3 linked regions of the Homo sapiens genome follow. The protein of the gene in region 3 purifies or fractionates together with the protein of the main gene of each other region. This does not show direct contact. Each region holds a gene or a part of one and is shown on either strand. Other genes may lie near its edges.

Region 1 (4,379 bases), on a different chromosome or scaffold from region 3:
CTGCTGCTCTGGGTGCTCTAGGTGCTTTTCCTGCTGTTCCAGGTGCTTTGGCTGTCCTACCTGCTGCTCTGGGAGCTCCAGCTGTGCCTCCTGCTTCTCCAGGTGCTTCACCTGGCCCTCTTGCTGCTCTGGGAGCTCCAGTTGCTTCTCCTCCTGCTCCAGGTTCTTTGGCTGCCCCACCTGCTGCTCTGGGACCTCCAACTGCCCCTGCTGCTGCTCCAGATGCTTCAGTTGTCCCTCCTGCTCCTCTAGGTGCTTCAGCTGCCCCACCTGCTGCTCCAGGTGCTCCACCTGCCTCTCCTGCTGCTCCAGCTGCCCCTCCTGCTGCACCAGATGCTTCAGCTGCCCCTCCTGCTGCACCAGGTGCTTCAGCTGCCCCTCCTCCTCCTCCAGGTGCTTTGGCTGCCCCTGCTGCTTCTCTAGCTGCTTCAGCTGCAGCACCTGCTGCTCTGGGAGCCCCAGCTGCCCTTCCTGGTGCTCCAGGTGCTCCAGCTGCCCCTCCTGCTGCTCCAGGTGCTTCAGCTGCCCCTCCTGCTCCTCCAGCTGCTCCAGTTGCCCCTCCTGCTGCTCCAGATGCTTAGGCTGCCCCTCCTGCTGCTCCAGGTGCTTCAGCTGCCCCATCTGCTGCTCTGGGAGCTCTGGCTGCTTCTCCTGCTGATCCAGGTGCTTCAGCTGCCCCTCCTGCTGTTCCAGGTACTTCAGCTGCCCCATCTGCTCCTCTGGGACCTCCAGCTGCCCCTCCTGGTGCTCCAGGTGCTTCAGCTGTCCCTCCTGCTGCTCAGAGAGCTCCAGCTGCCCCTCCTGCTGCTCAGAGAGCTCCAGCTGCCCCTCCTGCTGCTGTGGGAGCTCCAGCTGCCCCTCCTGCTGCTCTGGGAGCTCCAGCTGCCCCTCCTGCTGCTCTGGGAGCTCCAGCTGCCCCTCCTGCTGCTCTGGGAGCTCCAGCTGCCCCTCCTGCTGCTCTGGGAGCTCCAGCTGCCCCTCCTGCTGCTCTGGGAGCTCCAGCTGCCCCTCCTGCTGCTCCGGGTGCTTCAGCTGTCCCTCCTGCTGCTCTAGGTGCTTCAGGTGCCCCTCCTGCTGCTCTGGGAGCTCCAACAGTTGCTCTTTCTTCATTCCCAGTTGCTCATCTCTCTTGACTAGCTCTTGATCCAGTTGCTGGTCTAAGAGCTTCTTCTCTTCTTCCAGCTGTTTGTTTAGCTGCTGATCCCTTTGTGTTTTCTCCTGCTTAAGCTGCTGCTCTGGGTTTTCTGCTTTCTGATATTCCTCATGCTGTTCCCAGTGCTGTTGCTGCAGCTCCTGCTCCTGTGGCTCCTTCTGCTGTTGCTCACATTCTTGCTCAGGCAGTCCCTTTACAGCAGTCATGTGCTTTTCCTCTTGCTTTGATGGGACCTCCACTGGGAGCTCGACAGGCACCTTCTGGCATGGGGGAGGCAGTGGAGTTGGCTGTTTCATTTGCTCCTGATGGGTATTGACTGGAGGAGGAACAGTCTTGAGGAGCTCCTGACTGAGGGCAGGGGAGAGGGTCACTGGCAGTGTGTGTTGCTGGGACATCTTAGAAGCTACTGTCAACCTGAAAGACAGAAGAGGTCTGATGCACAGGCTGAAGGCAAAGGAAATAGATGAAACCTTGGGAATCTGCAGAAGTATCTGGTTTTTTAGCATCCCCTCTTCCCTTGGGCAGGGTACTGTTCTACCACCTCTGGACTATCATTTCCCAAAAGCAGCAGAGAGAGAAGGGTGGAAATGTGGAGGGGCAGAGAAAGGTCCTCCTAGGAGCCTCCTTGTTCCCAGGTGAGAGCCAACAAGGAGATCTGTCTGCAGGGCTGTTCTGCAAGGGTGGGTCAGGTGCCAGCTCACTGTCTGCTCTTGTCTAGTCCTTGTGTCCACCCTCATCGCTTCACTGACCAAGGAGCAGAGATGCGTTCTGGGATTATGTCACAGTGAGGAGTAAGGCCTTAGGGAATGAAATGTCTCTTGGAGAACACCAAGTCCTAGAAAACCAATAGGCCGTGCCAGAGAGGACCTAAGAGGTCATGGTGTGACCTCCAGACTGGAGCCACAGGACATGCTCTAGGCCTGAATCTCCCATTGGAATGCTGTGTGTTTCTGGGCATGTCACTTAGTCTCCTGGGATTTGGTTTTCCCCCCTGTAAAGCCAGCAGGTTGGCCTATTCAACCCCAGGGCTGCTTTCTCTCCTGACCTTCTGAGGTTTAGCTGCAGTCCTTGTGTCTGGGGTGGGGCTGCGGGAGCTGGAAGGTTGCTGAGAGTTGGAGGTTGTTCTTCCAAGTCTTATACTTCTAAGTTGAGTTTTCCTGTCCCAGCTCTGCCTAGGTTTCTCCAAATAGAAAGGTTTCCCCATTCTGCCATCCCTCTGTGCAGCATAGCCAAAAGGTAGAAGCTCTTCCCTGAACCTCTCCCTCCATAAAGAAGGCAAAATGATGGTCTGTCAAAACCCAAGAGGTTTAGGAAAGAAGTTGAATGCTATTCCCCTCCTCCCTTCCATAATTCTCTCTCACACACAAATCCAAAAATATGGTCACAAGAAAAGATGGGACATAGGATGATTACTCTCTGTTCTGCACTTCTGTGCCAAGGCACTTTTCTCTCAGTACTCTGACTCGAGTCCCCCTAGAATGAAAGTCCAGCTGAATCCAGCCCCAGAGTAATGCCCACCCCCACCCAGGCTGCCCACCCCCACCACATCGTATGCTGTTGGAGGTCCCGAGTCCCAACCCTGGTTCTACCATCCGACACTTACCAGACTCACAGTAAGGCTGAGGCAGAGGCTTTGGTGGAGTGCTGAGCTGAGCAGGAGTCAGGGCACTCTTTATATCATTCTGCAGCCTGGCCTCCCTCCAGGTTGAAGGTGATGGACAGGTTTCACCACTCTAGTTGGTCAACTTCCTCTAACCCCTTCCTGACTCACCACAGGCATCTTAAGCAGCAAACCCTTTAGGGCCCCATTTCCCAGGGACACACAGCTCCTGCCTGGCCAGAGGATTCTGGTAGCTCAACTATTCCTGTGATGCTTTTCTGACCTAGGCACAGGGAGCTGAGTGAGGCATCCTACTGTTTTGTGACCTTAGTCAAACTTCTGCTCTGAATCTCAATTTTTCCACTTTCAAAATGAGTTTGTTCTCATTATTAGGCCAAAAGATTCACTTTCAAGGGCATGAAATGGAAAGTTATGTGTCTTTCGGGGATGTCCAGGCTGGGTTATATGTTTGAAGATAGAGTCACTTCCCATGAAGGGGTGGTATTTCTGGGGTGTTCTCTTGGGCCACAAGCCCTTCCTCTCTCAGAATATATTTTTTAACTCCATCCTATGTGGAAATAAACTCTGTCTTTGGTGGAGGGAGTTTGACTTTAGGCCAAGTAGAGTCAAGTAGAAGGCTTCTAGGAGTCCTCTGCTGCTGCCACTTGCTGCCCAGCCTCTATGCCCGAGGCTGCAGTTAGAGAAGTTCTCAGGAATGCCATGCTCATAAGAACTCCAAAGCACGGCCCACTCTAGGCAAGGAAACAAGATTGAATCTACACAATATAAAAATAAGTATTGCTTTTTATAATGACAAACCAAACTACTTTCTTAAGTACTTTTTTAAATGCATGAAGGTATAAAGATCAGAATCAAATCATCCATTTCCTGTTGTAAATCATACTCTAGAAATAGCTTAAGAAATCTTTCAGAGTGGGGATTTGAGCACATCTCTCCCCCGTGCCAACAGTGCACCAGCACACTTGAAATAACATTCAAACTCACTGCCGTGGTTTAAAAGACCCTGGGTACCTGGCTTCTGCCTTCTTCTGGGGCCCCAATTCATGTCAATCTCTCCCTGAGAGGTATATTCTTACCTCACTGAGGGCCTTCGGTTCCTGAGATGAGCCCAGAGCTCTCCACCTGGGGGCTTGGCACCTGCTCTCCTTCTGCCCACCGGCCCCTCCCCAGGTCTCTGGTTCTTTTATGCCTTTCAGCTTCAGTGTCAATGTTGGGGTCTGTCAGAGATCCTTCTCTGTGTACCATATCTAAAGGATTGGTACTTAATTTCACTTATAACAATCTAGAGTAATTTATTTGCATTTGTTCACTTGCTTATTGTCTATCTTTCCCACTGGAAAATAAGCTAAGAGCAGCGTATACCTGGTATGTTTTCCACTATACCCCTAGAACCTATCAAAACTACTGCATATAATATGTGCTCTACAAGTATTCATTGAAGAACAGTGAATTTTACGACCCGAAAATAATGACTATTAAACATTTCAGTGTTGATCAATGTTTATATGTGTGTGTCTGTATGTGTGTGTAAAAACCAAACTGATTTATTTCTTCCCTTTCTTTTTAATGGTTGGCTAATAACTTATTATATGGACATCATTCATT
Region 2 (2,403 bases), on a different chromosome or scaffold from region 3:
GTCTGAGAAGCAATGAATCTCCTTCAGGGAAGCCTGCTCTGCAGTTTGCAAACCACAGCCTCTTCTGCTTCTGCCTTTTGCCAAGATGATATTGACCTTCAGTGACCTCTTTCTTGTGCCAGCCCACATTCCCCTTTTGCATTGCCTACATGACACCTGTATAAAAATATCCATGGACAGGAGATACTGCATCTATTCAGGGTCTGGATTCAGCTTACTGTTGTTACAAATAAGTAAGTTTGGTAATATATAGTTACATAAATTACTCCTAATTCCTACTTCTTCCTTCATATCTCAAAGGAATATTTAGATGCCATCAAGAAATTTTACCAGACCAGTGTGGAATCTACTGATTTTGCAAATGCTCCAGAAGAAAGTCGAAAGAAGATTAACTCCTGGGTGGAAAGTCAAACGAATGGTAGGAGAGCCACCCATTATAGAAACACCTTTGAGAAACCTATGCCAGTGAGCCTTGTGCTTGACACTGCATGGGGGAACAGGTGTGGGGATTGAGATGGGTTTGCAGGGAGGGCTGAAGAGGGCACTCCAGATGAAGGATTTGTCCAAATGAATATGAAGAGAGCCTAGGGGAGCCAAGGAGGAAATCACAGGAAGCCAATTAGATGGAAACACATCTGGAGAATTATTTGCTTATGGCCCTGCATGACAATAGCTTTGTGGATCCCCTGTCTCCGCTCAGGCCTATTTTGAGATCATATCCTTTACTTTAAATCAGACTCAAATTTTTATGATGAATATTTAATAGAAAACATTAGAAAGCGTCTCTCGTCTCCTTTACTAATTGGGAAACAAGCAGCTCTCTGGTAAATCACCCTTTTGTCTCTGAGCTGGAGCTGCCTGGATCACATCTGTAGCCAATGTGTTCTGCAGGGATTATCACAGCTCTCTTCCCCATCAAGGGCAAAGAGCTTGACAAAGTCTCCATTCTACAGACATCTTTCTTACCTCCCACCTCTCATTACAGGCCAAACTTACAGCAACTCAACATGAGAGTGAATAGGAAGATACCCCCGGAAGTAGTGTCTGACAGCACAGGACATGCGTTTCATATTACAGAGCTCAAGTCACTCATCCTAAAATGCAATCAGGGCCTCCTTCCTCTGAATGGGGACCCCGTAGTTAAAAAAAAATAAAAGTAGGAAGAGGAGGGAGGGAGAAAGGAAAGACACATGTTGGAAGAGTAGACAAAATCAGTTTATCAGTATTCCAAATCAGATGATTGGAGACATTCATACACAGAGAACGTGAACTCCTTCTCTATCACAAGAAGTGATGTCTCCATCAAGGGTAACTTTATACGACTGGAGCCTTGAAGAAAGCTGCATCTGGTGAACCACTGGTCAGTGAGTCTAACAATTCAAAGATCAAAGTCAGTGAGTCTCAAGCAGGGATTTGGGTCAATAATTAACGATCAGTCACGAACATTTGCAAAGCATCTTCCAGACAAGCCATTTGTAGCTTGTGTAAAAGACTCTTTTATTCTTTCCCTTGCAGAAAAAATTAAAAACCTATTTCCTGATGGGACTATTGGCAATGATACGACACTGGTTCTTGTGAACGCAATCTATTTCAAAGGGCAGTGGGAGAATAAATTTAAAAAAGAAAACACTAAAGAGGAAAAATTTTGGCCAAACAAGGTATTGTCTATATTTTATTTATATAGTGTAATATGTTAATACATGGAATGTTAAACATTTCTGATGGAATGTAACATGATAAGTAAAAAATAAAAATTGTTCATGTCTGTTATTTTGTTGTTTTACTCTTATAACTTTATTTAGTTAGGAATACCTGAAAAACTATTGTTTCTAACTCATGGAATTCCTGGGTTATTTCTTAGAAGAAGAAGGATGTGTTGCTATCTCAATAATATTATCTTTTTTGTCTTGTGTTTCACGTGTTATTTGTTGGACACATTGATTTATTGCAGAATACATACAAATCTGTACAGATGATGAGGCAATACAATTCCTTTAATTTTGCCTTGCTGGAGGATGTACAGGCCAAGGTCCTGGAAATACCATACAAAGGCAAAGATCTAAGCATGATTGTGCTGCTGCCAAATGAAATCGATGGTCTGCAGAAGGTAAGAACTTGCATCTACAACTCTTCCTTCTACTGCCGGACATTTTTCCAAAGATACCAAGTTTAAACAAGGTAAAAGCTTATGACCGAGTTGCCTCAAAATGATGAAAAATTCTAAATGAGGAATGATGACTCACCTTCATATTACAAATATTTGAGCATAGGGCCTGACACAAACTGAAAGCTTAGTTTTTGTTTGTTTGTTTGTTTTTATTATTATTATTATAATACTTTAAGCTTTAGGGTACATGTGCACAATGTGCAGGTTAGTTACATATGTATACATGTGCCATGCTG
Region 3 (3,654 bases):
CTCTGCTTTTCTCAAACAGAAGGAGTCTTTCACTGTAGCCACCACAGCTGGGAATGTGCTGGGTCACACCTGAAGCCAGCACATCTCAGAGTCTCATCCAAGGCCCATGACGCACTCCTTGGGTATCGCTGCTGGTTATTCAGGGCCCAAGGGCTCTTTAGTCAGCAGGTAATGTATCCTGCTAGGACTGGGTTTTTCCCTCCAAGGCAGTAGGTTCCCTTTTGGCCCGGGGTGGGTCTAGAAATGTTGTTCAGGAGCTAGGGCCTATAATGCGGGCCTCACAACTCTGCCCAGTGCCATATCCTACTGTGGCTGAGCTGGAATCCAAGATGTAAGACGGTCCTCTTTACTCTTTGCTCTTTGCTCCTTAAGCAGAAGAAAGGAGTCACTTCTATTGCAGCTGCCTTTGTTTGGGGGATGGATGATGCAAGCACTCTTTTAGCTATGCCGGCTGGTATCTCCCTAGATCACATGCCACCCTAGTCCACTGACTATAAGCCCAGCCTAGTGCTAGTAGCTGAGGAGTTGGAGTCCTTGTGCCCTAGACTGTATTTCAAGTTTATCTAGGACCCCAGAGCTTTTCAGCCCACGGTGGTGAGGCTTGCAGGGAAACTCAAGTTCTGACCACTGGGATGGATGCTTCCTGTCTAGCTGGGGCAGGTCCAAATGCTCCCTCCATGTGCTGGCGCTGGCTGAGCCCAGCCCAGCTTTATTCTCCACTGTGACAGGGCAGCACTGAGTTCAGTGTAAAGGCCCCCAGCCACTGTACCCTCCCTTTCCCAAGTGCATAGGTTCTGTCTCCACACCACATGGCTGGCTGCTGCTAGGGGGTGAGGGAGGGGTGGCATTGGCGATGCAAGACCATCTTTTCTGCCCTCCTCAATGCCTCTTTCAAAGATATGAAGTCAAAACCAGCCACTGTGATTGCTCACCTGATTTTTGGTTCTTGTGACGGTGCTTTTCTGTGTGCAGATAGTTAAAATTTGGTGTTCTAGCAGCCGAACCAATGTTTGTAGGCTTCTTTTCCACCGTCTTGCTCCACTCACTCCCATATCTGATTCTTACTTGGAAATTCTTACAGCTAAAAAATCTCTTGTCCAGATTCCCTGCAGGATTCTATAGGGAAGATCACTTATCTTTATCATACAACCTTTCACTCTTACTGTTATAATTCTTATTTACCTCTCTACGAATGAATAGTATAGCTCTGTGATTTCAGGCAAGTTACTTAATCTCTCTGTGTTTCTTTGCTGTTAAATATAAACTGTGTCAGCCTCTTAAGAGTTGTTTTGAGGATTAAATGAGGTAATTCCTAGCACAGAGTAAGCACTTACTAAATAATAGCTATTACTATTATCTCTCTTCAGCCAGCTGAAGTCTTAGAGGGCAGTGCCTTCATAGTGTTCTTTGTATCTTCTGCAAGTACTTATCTGATTTGTCCCAGAATTAGTAAAAAATGTTTAATATTGTTTCCTGATTTCTTGAGCCTTGCTGGTGTGTATAAGATAGAATTTTTCACACTGGGCTTCCTTGGACAAGTTTCATAAGAGGTGCTTTTTTGTAGTTCAAAAACATTGGATTCAAATTTCATCTGTAAATTTTAACTGTTTAAAAAAACAACAAAAATCTGTGAGCTCAAATGTTATAAAATAGAATTTTAAGTAATAAAGATTATCAGTGTCTTTACAGTTGTTCACACCTATAATCCCATCATTTTGGGAGGCTAAGGTGGGAGGATCACTTGAGGCCAGGAGTTTGAGACCAGCCTGGGCAACGTAGGGAAACCTTGTCTCTACAAAAAAAAATTTTCTTTAATTAGCCAGGCGAGGTTGTGTACACAACCTGAGCAACAGATCAAGACTATCTCAATTAAAAAAAAAAAGACTCTCATTTTATTAACATGCTGCTAAATTTATTTTTATGCTTTTCCTATCATCTTTTGAAATTGAAGATGATCCTGATATTGAAGGGTAAACTCTTAAAAACAAACTGCAAAACAAGAACTTGTTGCCATTTGCAAATATTTCTCTCCATAAATTTTAATTGTGTGAATTTTAAAAACACAAAAATAAGTAGAATAGGATACAGGAATGCAACTGACACATAACCTCTGCTTTCATTGATTTGTATTACTCAGATGAGGCTTATTGTTGCCATTGATTGATTTTTATAATAAATTCATTCTATAAATTTAAATAAAAATATACCTGTTCTAATTAAGTGTGGATTTACCTACTACCTTTGGAAAGAGCAGACATTGATAAATAACTTACTTGTTTTTATGTATTTCTTTGATAAGCGTTTGTTACACTATTGTTACGTAATAGGTTTTAGGCTCTAAGCTAACAATATAGGTTTGACAGGCTACAACTGACAGCCTTTGGTTAAACATAAACTCATTGGGTTTCCATATAATTGTGCATTTAGAAGAATACTTTATTGCTTTAAGACTTTTTGGAAACGCTGACTTGTAAAGTATCCTATGTCTTTGAGTCAGCTGACTCCCATCTTTTACTTTTGCAGGGGCCCAGCTGGAGTAAGAGCCCAGGCCCTGGATAGAGATGGAAATCTGGTAGAAGATTTTGTATTTGATGCAGGAGTTGGGGATATTGGAAATCGCATTCTTCATGTGAGAAATGCACCTTCTCCTGCTGCTACTTCTTCCATTGCAATTTCTGGAATGATTGCAGATGAAGTACAACAAAGATTTGAATTATAAATAATGAAAGGAGCTAGGTATGCACTGTAATCTTCATGTCAGCAACAAGAATGTACTAATTGCATTCTTTAATTTAAAAAATGGTTTTTAAACTTTAGTTTTTAGGTCAAAGATAACCACTGCATTGTTAAAATGATGTAACATAGAAATAATAATTTTCTACAAAAATTAGCCAGGCATGGTGGCGCATGCCTGTAATCTCAGCTACTCAGGAGGCTGAGGCAGGAGAATCAATTGAACCGAGCAGACGGAGGTGAGCTGAGAGCTGAGATTGCACCACTGCACTCCAGCCTGGGTGACAGAGCAAGAAAATAATAATAATAATAATTTTCAAAATGTTAGGCTGGGGGCCGTGGCCAGCACTTTGGGAAGCCAAGGCAGGTAGATTGTAGCCCAGGAGTTTGAGAACAGCCTGGGCAACATGGCAAAACCCTGTTTCTACACAAAGTTAGCTGGGTCTGGTGCCTCTGTAGTTCCAGCTCCTCAGTAGGCTGAGGTGAGAGGATCACTTGAGCCCAGGAGGTCTAGGCTGCAGTGAGCTTATGTTCATGACACTGCATTCCAGGCTGGATGATAGAGCAAGATCTTGTCTCAAAAAAAAAAAAAAAAAAAAAAAAAATCCAGCCTGGGCAACATAGTGAATGAAACCCCATCTCTACAAAAAATACAAAAATTAGCTGGGCATGATGGTGTGTGCCTGTAGTCCCAGCTACTTGGGGGCTGAGGCAGGAGGATCGCTTGAGCCCGGGAGATCAAGGCTACAGTGAGCTGTGTTCATGCCACTATACCCCAGCCTGGGCAACAAAGTGAGTCCCTGACTCAAAAAATAAAAACAACAACAAAAAATAAATTCCATGCTTATTTACTTTGCGAATAAAGAGGCAAGGTACAGTTTTATCTGTCCGAATCCCTGACTTTTATTTATTTTTTTTTTC

The links.
Region 1: the proteins of L2HGDH (region 3) and IVL purify together in Homo sapiens (affinity purification with mass spectrometry; 3 studies listed by BioGRID and IntAct, with this or other methods). This does not show direct contact.
Region 2: the proteins of L2HGDH (region 3) and SERPINB4 purify together in Homo sapiens (affinity purification with mass spectrometry; one large-scale study listed by BioGRID and IntAct). This does not show direct contact.

The regions. Positions count from the first base shown.
Region 1 is NC_000001.11:152,906,967-152,911,345, reverse strand, and holds the start of IVL (involucrin), read right to left. Parts: upstream 2,801-4,379; 5' UTR 2,757-2,800; intron 1,568-2,756; 5' UTR 1,549-1,567; coding exon 1-1,548. UniProt on the Homo sapiens protein: Part of the insoluble cornified cell envelope (CE) of stratified squamous epithelia.
Region 2 is NC_000018.10:63,638,889-63,641,291, reverse strand, and holds part of SERPINB4 (serpin B4), read left to right. Parts: intron 1-300; coding exon 301-418; intron 419-1,515; coding exon 1,516-1,658; intron 1,659-1,951; coding exon 1,952-2,107; intron 2,108-2,403. UniProt on the Homo sapiens protein: May act as a protease inhibitor to modulate the host immune response against tumor cells.
Region 3 is NC_000014.9:50,246,123-50,249,776, reverse strand, and holds part of L2HGDH (L-2-hydroxyglutarate dehydrogenase, mitochondrial isoform 1 precursor), read left to right. Parts: intron 1-2,523; coding exon 2,524-2,719; 3' UTR 2,720-3,654.